Regions from separate parts of the Homo sapiens genome. Here region 1 is linked to region 2. The links come from fine-mapping of genetic effects on gene expression. A gene starts in region 2. The other region holds a variant in brackets. All regions are shown on one strand. Distances are between the middles of the regions.

Evidence for each region. PIP is the estimated chance that this variant, and not a neighbour inherited with it, causes the effect. A credible set is the group of variants that fine-mapping cannot tell apart.
Region 1: its variant is the best candidate, but not a certain one, in a credible set for the expression of CCDC82 in spinal cord (GTEx, PIP 0.90).

What each region holds. Positions count from the first base shown.
Region 1 is chr11:96,418,007-96,423,394 of GRCh38, forward strand. No RefSeq gene overlaps it. Among named protein-coding and RNA genes, the nearest start is that of JRKL, 31 kb to the left of the region's middle. The variant A/C (reference allele first, on the strand shown) is at 2,022.
Region 2 is chr11:96,386,908-96,392,295 of GRCh38, forward strand. CCDC82 (coiled-coil domain containing 82) reads right to left here and starts at 3,005. Exons shown (of 10, transcript NM_024725.4): 1 at 2,937-3,005; 2 at 623-706. It overlaps JRKL (JRK like), which reads left to right and starts at 3,106. Exons shown (of 2, transcript NM_001261833.2): 1 at 3,106-3,166; 2 at 3,576-5,388. The coding sequence starts at 3,743. The coding sequence ends at 5,317. RefSeq lists a silencer at 2,919-3,178.

The DNA of each region.
Region 1 (5,388 bases), 31 kb after region 2:
AAAGAAGAAGTAATACTAATCCCACCAAACTATTCCAAAAAAATAGATAAGGGAATACTTTTGAACTCATTATATGAAGCTCATATTACCCTGTATTGAAACCAAACAAAGATACATCAAAAAAAGAAAACTACAAGCCAATATCCCTGATGAACATTGATGCAAAAATCCTCAACAAGATACCAGCAAACTGAATTCAGCAACTAAAAAGATCACCAGTTAAAAAGACCATTAATCATGACCAAGGGAGATTTATCCCAGGGATGCAAAGATGGTTCAACATACACAAAACAATCAATGTGATACAGCATATAACAGAATGAAGGACAAAAACCATGTGATCATTTCAACTGATACTGAGAAAGCGTTTGATTAAATTCAACATCCATTAATGATAAAAAGCCTCAAAAACTGGGTATATAAGGACTGTACCACAAAGTAATAAAAGCTATGACAGACCCGCAGCTAATATTATACTGACTGAGGGAAAACTGAAAGACTTTCTGCTAAGATCTGGAACATGACAAGGATGCCCACGTTTACCACTGTAATTCAACTGGAAGTCCGCGGTAGAGTAGTCAGACATGGGAAAGAAATAAATGACATCCAAATTGTAAAGGAAACAGTAAAATTATCCTTGTTTCCAGATGATGTGATCTTATATTTGGAAAAACCTAAAGACTTGACCAAAAACCTATTAGAACTGATAAACAAATTCAATCAAGTTGCAGGATACAAACTCAACATACCAAAATCAGTAGTATTTCTATATGCCAACAGTGAACAAGCTGAAAAAGAAAAAAAGAAAGTAGTACCATTTACAGTACTACAAAAAAATACACAGGAATTAACTTAACCAAAGAAGTGAAAAATCACTACAGATATGGTCTGGCTCTGTGTGCTCACCCACATCTCACCTTGAATTGTAATCCCCATAATTCCCACATGTCAAGGGCAGGACCAGGTGGAGGTAATTGGATGATGGGGGTGGTTTCCCCTACACTGTTTTTGTGATAGTGAGTGAGTCTCACAAGATCTGATGGTTTTATAAGCGCCTGGCATTTCCCCTGCTTGTACTTACTCCGTCCTGCTTCCCTGTAAAGAAGGTGCCTGCTTATCCTTTGTCTTCCACCATGATTGTAAGTTTTCTGAGGCCTCCCCAGCAATGTGGAACTGTGAGTCAATTAAACCTCTTTCCTTTATAAATTACCCAGTTGGGGGTATTTCTTCATAGCAGTGTGAGAATGGACTAATACAGCTACAAAGAAAAGTATAAAACATTGATGCAAGAAATTGAAGACGACACACACACAAAATAGAAAGATATTCATTTTAATAGACTAGAAGAATCAAAATTGTTAAAATGTTCATACAACTCACATTACTTGACTTCAAATTATTCTACAGAGCTATAGTAACCAAAACAGCGTGGTACTGGCATAAAAACAGACACATAGACCAATGGAATAGAATTGAGGACCAAAAAACAAATGCATACATCTACAGAGCAATCATTTTTGATAAAGGTGCCAAAAATATACACTGGGGAAAGGACAGTCTCTTTAACAAACAGTGCTGGGAAATCTGGATATCCATCATACATAGCAGAAGGAAACTGGACCCCTATCTCTTGCCAAATACAAAAATGAAATCAAAATGAAAGAGTTCAATCTAAGACCTCAAACTATAAAACTACTTAAAGAAAACTTTGGGGAAACTCTCCAGGTCATTGGATTAGGCAAACATTTCTTGAGTAATACCCCATAAACACAGGCAACCAAAGCAAAAATGGATAAATGTGATCACATCGAATTAAAAAGCTTTGGCATAGCAAAGGAAACAATCAACAAAGTGAAGAGAAAACCCACACAAAGGGAGAAAATACTTGTAAACTCTCCATCTGACAAGGGATTGATAACCAGAGGATATAAGGAGCTCAAACCACTCTATAGGAAAAAAATTGAATAACCTGATTAAAAATGAGCAAAAGATTTGAATAGATGTTTCTCAACAGAAGACAC[A/C]CAAGTGGCAAACAGGTATATGAAAATGTGCTCAACATCACTGATCATCAGAGAAATGCAAATCACAACTACAATGAGATATCATCTCACCCCAGTTAAAATGGCTTTTATCCAAAAGACAGGTAATAACAGATGCTGGTGAGGACGTGGAGAAAAGGGAACTCTCATACACTGTTAATGGGAATGTAAATTCGTACAACCACTATGGAGAACAGTTTGGAAGTTCCTTGAAAAAGTCCCAAAATAGACTACCATATGATCCAGTAATCCCACTGCTAGGCATAAAACAAAAAGAAAAAAAAATCAGTGTATCAAAGATATAGCTGCACTCCCATGTGTATTGTGGCACTATTTACAATACCTAAGATTTGAAAGCAACTAAAGTGTCTGTCAACAGATGAATGGATAAAGAAAATGCGGTATGTATACACAAAGGAGTACTATTCAGCCATAAAATAGAATGAGATCTTGTCATTTGCAACAACATGGACAAAACTGGAAGTGATTGTGTTAAGTGAAACAAGCCAGGGATAGAAAGACAAACATTGCATGTTCTCCCTTATTTGTTGGAGCTAAAAATGAAAGCAGTTGAACTCATGGACACCAAGAGTAGAATGATGGTTACCAGAGGCTGGGAAATGGGTGAGGCAGGGGGAAGGGAGAATGGTTAGTGGGTATAAAAAATAGAAAGAATGAATAAGATTTAGTATTTGATAAAACAACTGGGTGACTATATTCAATAATAATTTAACTGTACATTTTAAAATAATTTAATTCTAACACAAAGGATAAATGCTTGAGGTGTTAAATGCCTCGTTTACCCTGATGTAATGATTACACATTGTATACCTGTATCAAAATATCCCATATACCCCATAAATATATATACAACTGTGTACCCCAATAATTAAAAATGAACACACACACACACACACACACACATATATATAATAGAAGTTGAAATAAAAATGCTTTAAAATAAAGGTAGACACACAGGGCATTTATTTTCTATTTACTAGATTAGAATACCTTTTTTCTAATCCTTAACACTTAATAACATACACAAAAAATAGTACTTAAAAATGCAAGTATGACTGTTATACATTCCATCCTCTAACAAGATAAAGTTTATTAAAATGACTGTTTGGCTGTTTGGTGATTTCCTTTCATCCATATCTGCCAAACTGCAAAGTGTAAAGAGAGGAAGAATGTGGTTTGTGGGAGTCAATGTTAAAAAAAAAAGGTATGTAAATAGTCTAATGGCAATAATGAATTAAGTGGATATTCATAATAACATAACATTTAGTGAATATTTACAGAAGCCTTAAATATGGCAGACACTGCTCTAGGTACTTAGAATTTAGCAGTGGACATATATATTGCTTTTAGCCCATGGTATATATTGCTTTTAGCCCATGGTAACACACAACAAATATGTTTTGTTTATTTCTCTATGGATCAACTGACAACAGAGAATTAGTTTGTGACTCAATAAAAGGGTCAACTTGACACTAGAGTTGTTGCCACATAATGGACTTCCTCCAGAAGTATTGAGTTTCCATCACTAGTAGAGTTAAAAGATTGATTAGACAGCCAATTGGCTAGACCATATGGGCTGTTTGATGAGATGCTCTTTTCAACTTTGAGACTCCATGATTCCTTCACATTGAAGGTATGGGGACAGAGCAAATTACCAAAGAGCAATACAAATGCTTTCAGAAGCTTTCATTCATGCATTAGGTATTATAAGTAATCTATTAAAGTATAGGTATTATAAGTAATCTAGACATGATTTAAAGTATATGATAGGATGTGCATAGGTTATATGCAAATATAACAGCTATTTTGTATGATGGACTTGAACATCTGTAGAATTTGGCATCTGAAGGGGTCCTGGAACCAATCCCCTGAGAACACCAAGGATTGCCTAATTTACTATATGTTAGGCACTGTTCCAACCCTTAGGGATCTTGCTTTTACACTGGGTATGATGGTTATTGGCATATAAGCCTTTTATTTGATTCCTCTAGTTTCAAAGAAGTATATTTGGCCATCAAAATATACCCAATTATATAATCTAGAAAGTCAACCCAAATTTAATAAGAATTTGTTAACAAATTTAACAAGACAGATAATGTGATTCTCTTTCAATGACCTTTTGTATTGAATTTCGTAGACATTTGTGGCCATTTCTGCACTTGGGACAACAGATTGACCTTTTCCTCTTCTGTCCATTTAAAATGATTTATTAACTATGCTGCAAAAAGATGATGCAAAAGGGCTGCTCAAAAAGGCTATATTTTGTGCTTATTTTCAATTTGGTGTTATTAGCCATATGTCATATAACCTTTCTAGGAAGAGAAACTATGCCTGGCACACTGATTCTGATTTGCTTATAGTCCTTCAATTTTAAGTCTAGACCAAGTGTAGTGATTACAGTGAGATGGAAGAAGTAATGGTGGACGTTCTTAAATGCCTTAACAACACTCGTCTGTCTATTCTTTCTTGTTTTCCTTCATAGACTCCTCTCCCCCTGCCTTTTCATTAAAATGAAGGTATTTCTTAAAATTCTGTCTAGCTCTTCTATTGTGTTATTCTTCCTTACCATGTCATTCATGTGTACTCTTATCCCAGGTCTAGAATCTACCACTATTAAAAATTTTGGTAAATCTAAACACTGTATTTCCAAGCAACACTACTTTTCTATGTTTTTAGATCAGTGTATCCATCAATCTAGGCTAATTGAAATTTTGAATTGTGTTATAACTTGTTTAACCATTTTCTTTTTATCTGTAAAATTAATTTTGACAACTTTAAGTGACATTTAGCAATTTCTCTAGTTTTAAGAAAATCTGCGTAATTGTTATATTTGTTTGGTTTATTTGAACTACGTTAGTGAGGTGATAAGCTAATTATCACTATGGTAAAATCAACCTCTTATCTCAATACAGATTGCAATTTCAGTGAATAATCACAGTTTTTTGCAATGAATCTTCACCAGAACTCTCTTTATCTAATTCATAAGATGGAATGGTTTGTTGTGAGACTTAAATTCTTAAAACATCCGTGACAATAGATCCCCACTTGTTTGAGTTTCTAATAAAATGATAACAGGTTTACAGATTTTGGCTTCTGTTAGTTTTTAGGAAAGATGAATTAAAGAATTTGTAGATGAGACTTATAATTATCTTTTTGTTCAATGGAGTCCAAGAGGAAGAATAATAAAGAATACCATGTACTTCATTTATTTGCTGTAGATAAAATCCCAAAATCAATGGAAAGGACTTATGTCGCTATACAACCCAAGTAGAAATTTATTCATTTATGGCTGGGCGTGGTGGCACATGCCTGTAATCCCAGCACTTTG
Region 2 (5,388 bases):
TTACAATACGTCCACCCAGTTTCTCCTCCAGGTTTTAAGCAGCTTACTGTTTCTTTGGTTTAGCACCACACGAACTAGGCATCTTACATTTTTAAGCTGTATAGTACAAAAAAGTATTTGTAAACACATAAATTTGCGTAAGCTAAGTGTGCATATGTGCACGTGTAGTATATCACATTGTAATAACAAAGCATGGCTTTCTAATAAACCTGTTTGAATTGGGAGAAATAATGAAAAAACATTTATGAAAACAATGACAAATATGGTTGCAGTAGATACACTAAAGCAAATATGGACAGTAAAGAACATTAAAGTTAACGATGATTTTTATTAGTACCCAAAAGCAAATTCATATACACTAGATGATTATCTTACAAAACTATAACATGCCCAGAATGTCAGTTATTTATCATGAAACAGGTGATTCCTATGACAATGGTGGAAATGATTAAGAATCACACTATTAAAAACTTATGACTGCACAGTTAAGCCATAAAAGAAACTTTAAGTTTTTAGTGCATTTTCACATTGATTTTTAAATCCTGACAATGATCCTAGAAGGAAGATATCTATTTTTATGTGTAAATATCAAAGCCAAGGACATAGAGTTTAAATGACTTACCGAAGATCACGCAGCTTGTTAGTGACAGAGCAGGGATTAGAAACCGGGTCTCTTGATTCCCCGTCCAGTGCCACACAATGACGGCTGCCAATATCACATTTGTACAAGATAGTAAAAATTAAGCCTTTAAAAATCATTATTTTTATCTCTCATTCATGCTGTATTTTAGTTTCAGAAAAATAACGATTAAAATGGTTTAGAGTTTACAAATATGCTTTTTTAAAAAATTATGTAACCGAATTTTACTGCACGAGTTAGGCCAGAAACTTCTGTAAATTATTATCCACCAGGCAAGAAAAGAGTATTTGCAGACTTCCCTCTTATCATCTTATTAATAACACCAATTGCAAAATTTAAAGGAGTCCCCAGTGAGCCCAAAAGTAAAATTTCAAAGAAAGGCAGTCTCTGATGAGAAACATATTTTGGAAAACTGCAGAATTTGAATGCCTGAGGCAGCATCTTTTATTTAAACAAAATAAATCAGGTTTCATTGGACCAACTGCCAAATTGCCAGGGTCTCTCATATTTCAAAATGACCATTTATATCAGTAAGGTAAAAAATTCTGTTACTGAAAAGGAAAGACACTTTGAATATGTTTGGCTCTTCTTTTTAAATTGTAGGTAGCTTTACTATATTAGCTGGGAAGGGAAGAATGATAACGGAGGGAAAAGGTGAGTGAACCTCGGAAGAGAAATGTGAAGGAAAGCTAGTTTGATGGGTAAGATACCTCTTGGTCTTCAGAATCTACTCAAAAGAGAATCCATGCAAATGAATGTTACTTCTGTATATGTTGAATATACACTTAATTTCCTGAAATGAGAATTTTATCGAGCTTCTGTAATGATACCTTACCTTTAAGCAAAGAGAAAAACAGAGACTCCAAACAGAAAGCATTAAATAAGTGAATGAAGATGATCAATACTATCACATCTTTGTGTTTCATGGTTAATATAAGATGCACATACATAGCTATGTTATCTGCCAAAGAATATATATTAAAGACAATAATCCATATTGCTTGTGTTCTTTCTCTAACACAGTAACTCTATAGCTAAAAGTACTTTGATGATGCCATTTGACTTTCTCATCAGAAGAAATATAGTTCCTTCTAAACTTTGAGGTTAATTCATACTCAAGAAAAGATTCATTCTAGAAATCACCTACTTGCTGTATAAACAATGCAGGTGGTAGTTAACACTTTACAGATTTGAAAGGCAGTGGAACCCCAGGTCATTATTTGAAATTCTACCAGGAGGGATCCATTCTTGGGTGTAAAACATCACTCCTCTTCGATGTTTTCTTTTATATGGCAGTTTGGAGAGCAAAGATTAATAAGCCGAAAAATAATTATTGAATATCTACCAAAATGCAAGCACCTGCTAGGAACTGTGCTGCCACCATTTCAAATAAACATGGTCTCTGCTCCCAAGGAGCTCACAATCTGATGAAATTACTAGGGACACCAAAAACAAGCCAGCATAATACACGATTTGAGGGCTACAGTGTATGATTAAGATCAAGTTCTTATCACACTGCTATGAATAAATTTATCATAGTTCTTCTATTGGCAGGAAAACAAGACAGAACATGACAGAAATAGGATATAAGAAAATAAACATAAAGAGAGGAAAGCCTATTTCCCCCACTTAGAATCACAGTCCAACAGTCCACAATTTCGCAAAGTGGATCCTGCCAGCATGGTATCCGGGATAACTATATTATTCATTAAAATCCGTTAACAATGAAGGTTAATGCAGCAGGAATGAGTGGTAGACAGTGGAATAGATCCTCTCAGGAATTAACACCCGGAAGGGTGACTTTCATGATTACAAACCTCTTTGGCGGGACGCAGGAACCCAGCGCCCGCTAGCCCACTAGTCCGTCACTCTGCCTCCAGGAGGGAGGGGCACAGTAGCTAGGAAACCGGACCCTCAGGCCAAGCTTCGCGATGACGCGCGCAGGACGACGGAAACCCCCAGACCCCAAAAGAGCTCTGCACCGAGAAAACAATTACAAGGGTCTGGAAAGGCCAGAAACCCGAGAAATCACCAACCGAGCTCCCTACATCAGTTCCAAGCACCTCCCCAAGGCGGAAATAACGGGCACCGCGCCCACTGCAGCTCAGCTGAGGAGGGTTAGAGGCGCAAAGGGCTGAGGGGCGTTCTCCGGCCCACCCAAAGAGCGCCCGCGGGAATTTTTCTCTTAGTCCGCGAGGAGGCACGGCTTCCCCCGCCCCTCTCATAAACCATTAGCACCGGGAGCGCGAGCGAGTCCCAGCCGGGAGACAGCCCCGCACCGCCCTCGCGCTCTCACCTTTCAAAGCGCCTCCACCTCTGCCTCCGCCTCCGCCCCTGCCCCGGCAACCAGCTCAGGACAAGCGATGCTCCTCCCCCCCTTCCGGGGACCAAGGGAAGTCCCGCCTCTGGGTGGGGCGAGGGGTGGGGCCAGGCGGCGGGAGGGATCATCTTCCGGGAGCGTGGCTAGGGGCGGAGCGACTGCCGCGCGATAGTCAGGGAGCTGTGCGGGTCCTGGTTGCAAGAGAGGTGGGGAGAGGGGCCTGGCGGGTTTTGAGGGACTGGGAGGACTGTCCCGGCTAAAGCTGGCGCGGGAAACTGGGGCTGCGCGGCGGGAGGGCCCTGCTGCTGGGGAAGGAATCTAATATATCCGTTCCCCTGAGGAAGGGTGCCAGTCCTTGACTCCTAGGCTCTTCGGCTCTCTGTCGTAACTTTGGGGTGTGGCAGGGGTTAGTGACGCGCGGTTACCCGGGATCTGGACGTGCAGGAGGTTCGTGGCCACAATGGGGGTATAGTCTTTCTCACGGCTGCTGGGGTAATAAAACACATGCTTTTAATCCGGATTATCCGCGGTGACATGGGGCCTCCGCTACTGCCCGTATAAGTTAAAGAAAGGCCTGTTCTCTCAAACTTCCTCCTCTTTCACCTTCTTCTGCAGTCTATTTGCCAGCCAACCCCAGCCCGGGAGGGGATCAGGGCCACCAGGTTGCTGGTAAGGATGAAAGACTGAGTGTGTTAAGACTGTTGAAGTGAGCCTGTGTAAGAGAAGGAAGGATTTTGTGGATTGCTACATTGTGAGTGTGGGGTGAGTCCCAGAACCTCGCTATGTCAGGGAAACGGAAGCGTGTGGTGTTGACTATTAAAGATAAGCTTGATATAATAAAGAAACTTGAAGACGGAGGTTCTTCCAAACAACTGGCAGTGATTTATGGAATTGGTGAAACAACAGTTCGGGATATAAGAAAAAATAAGGAAAAGATTATAACTTATGCAAGCAGTTCTGATTCCACAAGTCTTTTGGCCAAGAGGAAATCTATGAAGCCATCCATGTATGAGGAATTGGACAGGGCAATGCTGGAATGGTTCAACCAGCAAAGAGCAAAAGGGAATCCCATATCTGGACCAATTTGTGCAAAAAGGGCAGAGTTCTTCTTTTATGCTTTGGGAATGGATGGTGATTTTAACCCCTCTGCCGGTTGGCTAACTCGTTTTAAGCAGCGGCACAGCATTAGAGAGATTAACATTAGAAATGAAAGATTAAATGGAGATGAGACTGCGGTGGAAGATTTTTGTAATAACTTTCGAGATTTTATTGAACGAGAGAATTTACAGCCTGAACAAATCTACAATGCAGATGAAACTGGACTCTTTTGGAAGTGCTTGCCTTCTAGGATTTCAGTAATCAAAGGTAAATGCACTGTCCCTGGGCACAAATCAATTGAAGAAAGAGTCACAATCATGTGTTGTGCCAATGCAACAGGTTTACACAAACTTAAACTTTGTGTTGTGGGGAAAGCAAAGAAACCTCGCTCCTTTAAATCAACTGACACCTTAAACCTGCCAGTCTCTTATTTCAGCCAAAAAGGTGCATGGATGGATCTTTCCATTTTCCGACAATGGTTTGATAAAATTTTTGTGCCGCAAGTTCGAGAGTATTTAAGATCTAAAGGCTTGCAGGAAAAGGCTGTGCTCTTGTTGGATAATTCACCAACACATCCAAATGAAAATGTCCTAAGGTCAGATGATGGCCAAATATTTGCTAAATATTTACCACCTAATGTGGCCTCATTGATTCAGCCTTCAGATCAGGGAGTCATAGCAACGATGAAGAGAAATTATCGTGCAGGTCTTCTCCAGAACAACTTGGAAGAAGGTAATGACCTGAAATCATTCTGGAAGAAGCTAACTCTGTTGGATGCACTTTATGAAATAGCAATGGCATGGAACTTAGTAAAACCAGTTACCATTAGCAGAGCATGGAAGAAGATTCTCCCTATGGTAGAGGAGAAAGAGAGCCTGGACTTTGATGTTGAAGATATTTCTGTGGCTACTGTGGCTGCCATTTTACAACACACCAAAGGATTGGAAAATGTGACTACTGAGAACCTTGAAAAATGGCTTGAAGTAGACAGTACTGAACCAGGCTATGAAGTGTTAACTGATAGCGAAATCATCAGAAGAGCACAAGGCCAGGCAGATGAATCCAGTGAAAATGAGGAGGAGGAAATAGAACTAATTCCAGAGAAACATATTAATCATGCAGCTGCCCTCCAGTGGACTGAAAATTTATTGGATTATCTAGAACAACAAGGTGATATGATTCTACCTGATAGACTGGTAATACGTAAACTTCGAGCCACCATCAGAAATAAACAGAAGATGACAAAGTCAAGTCAATAATGTCATTTCAATTTTATTGTTCTGCTCATTGTGTTTGTGACAAACTCTTTGCAATATGGCTTAATTTTCTT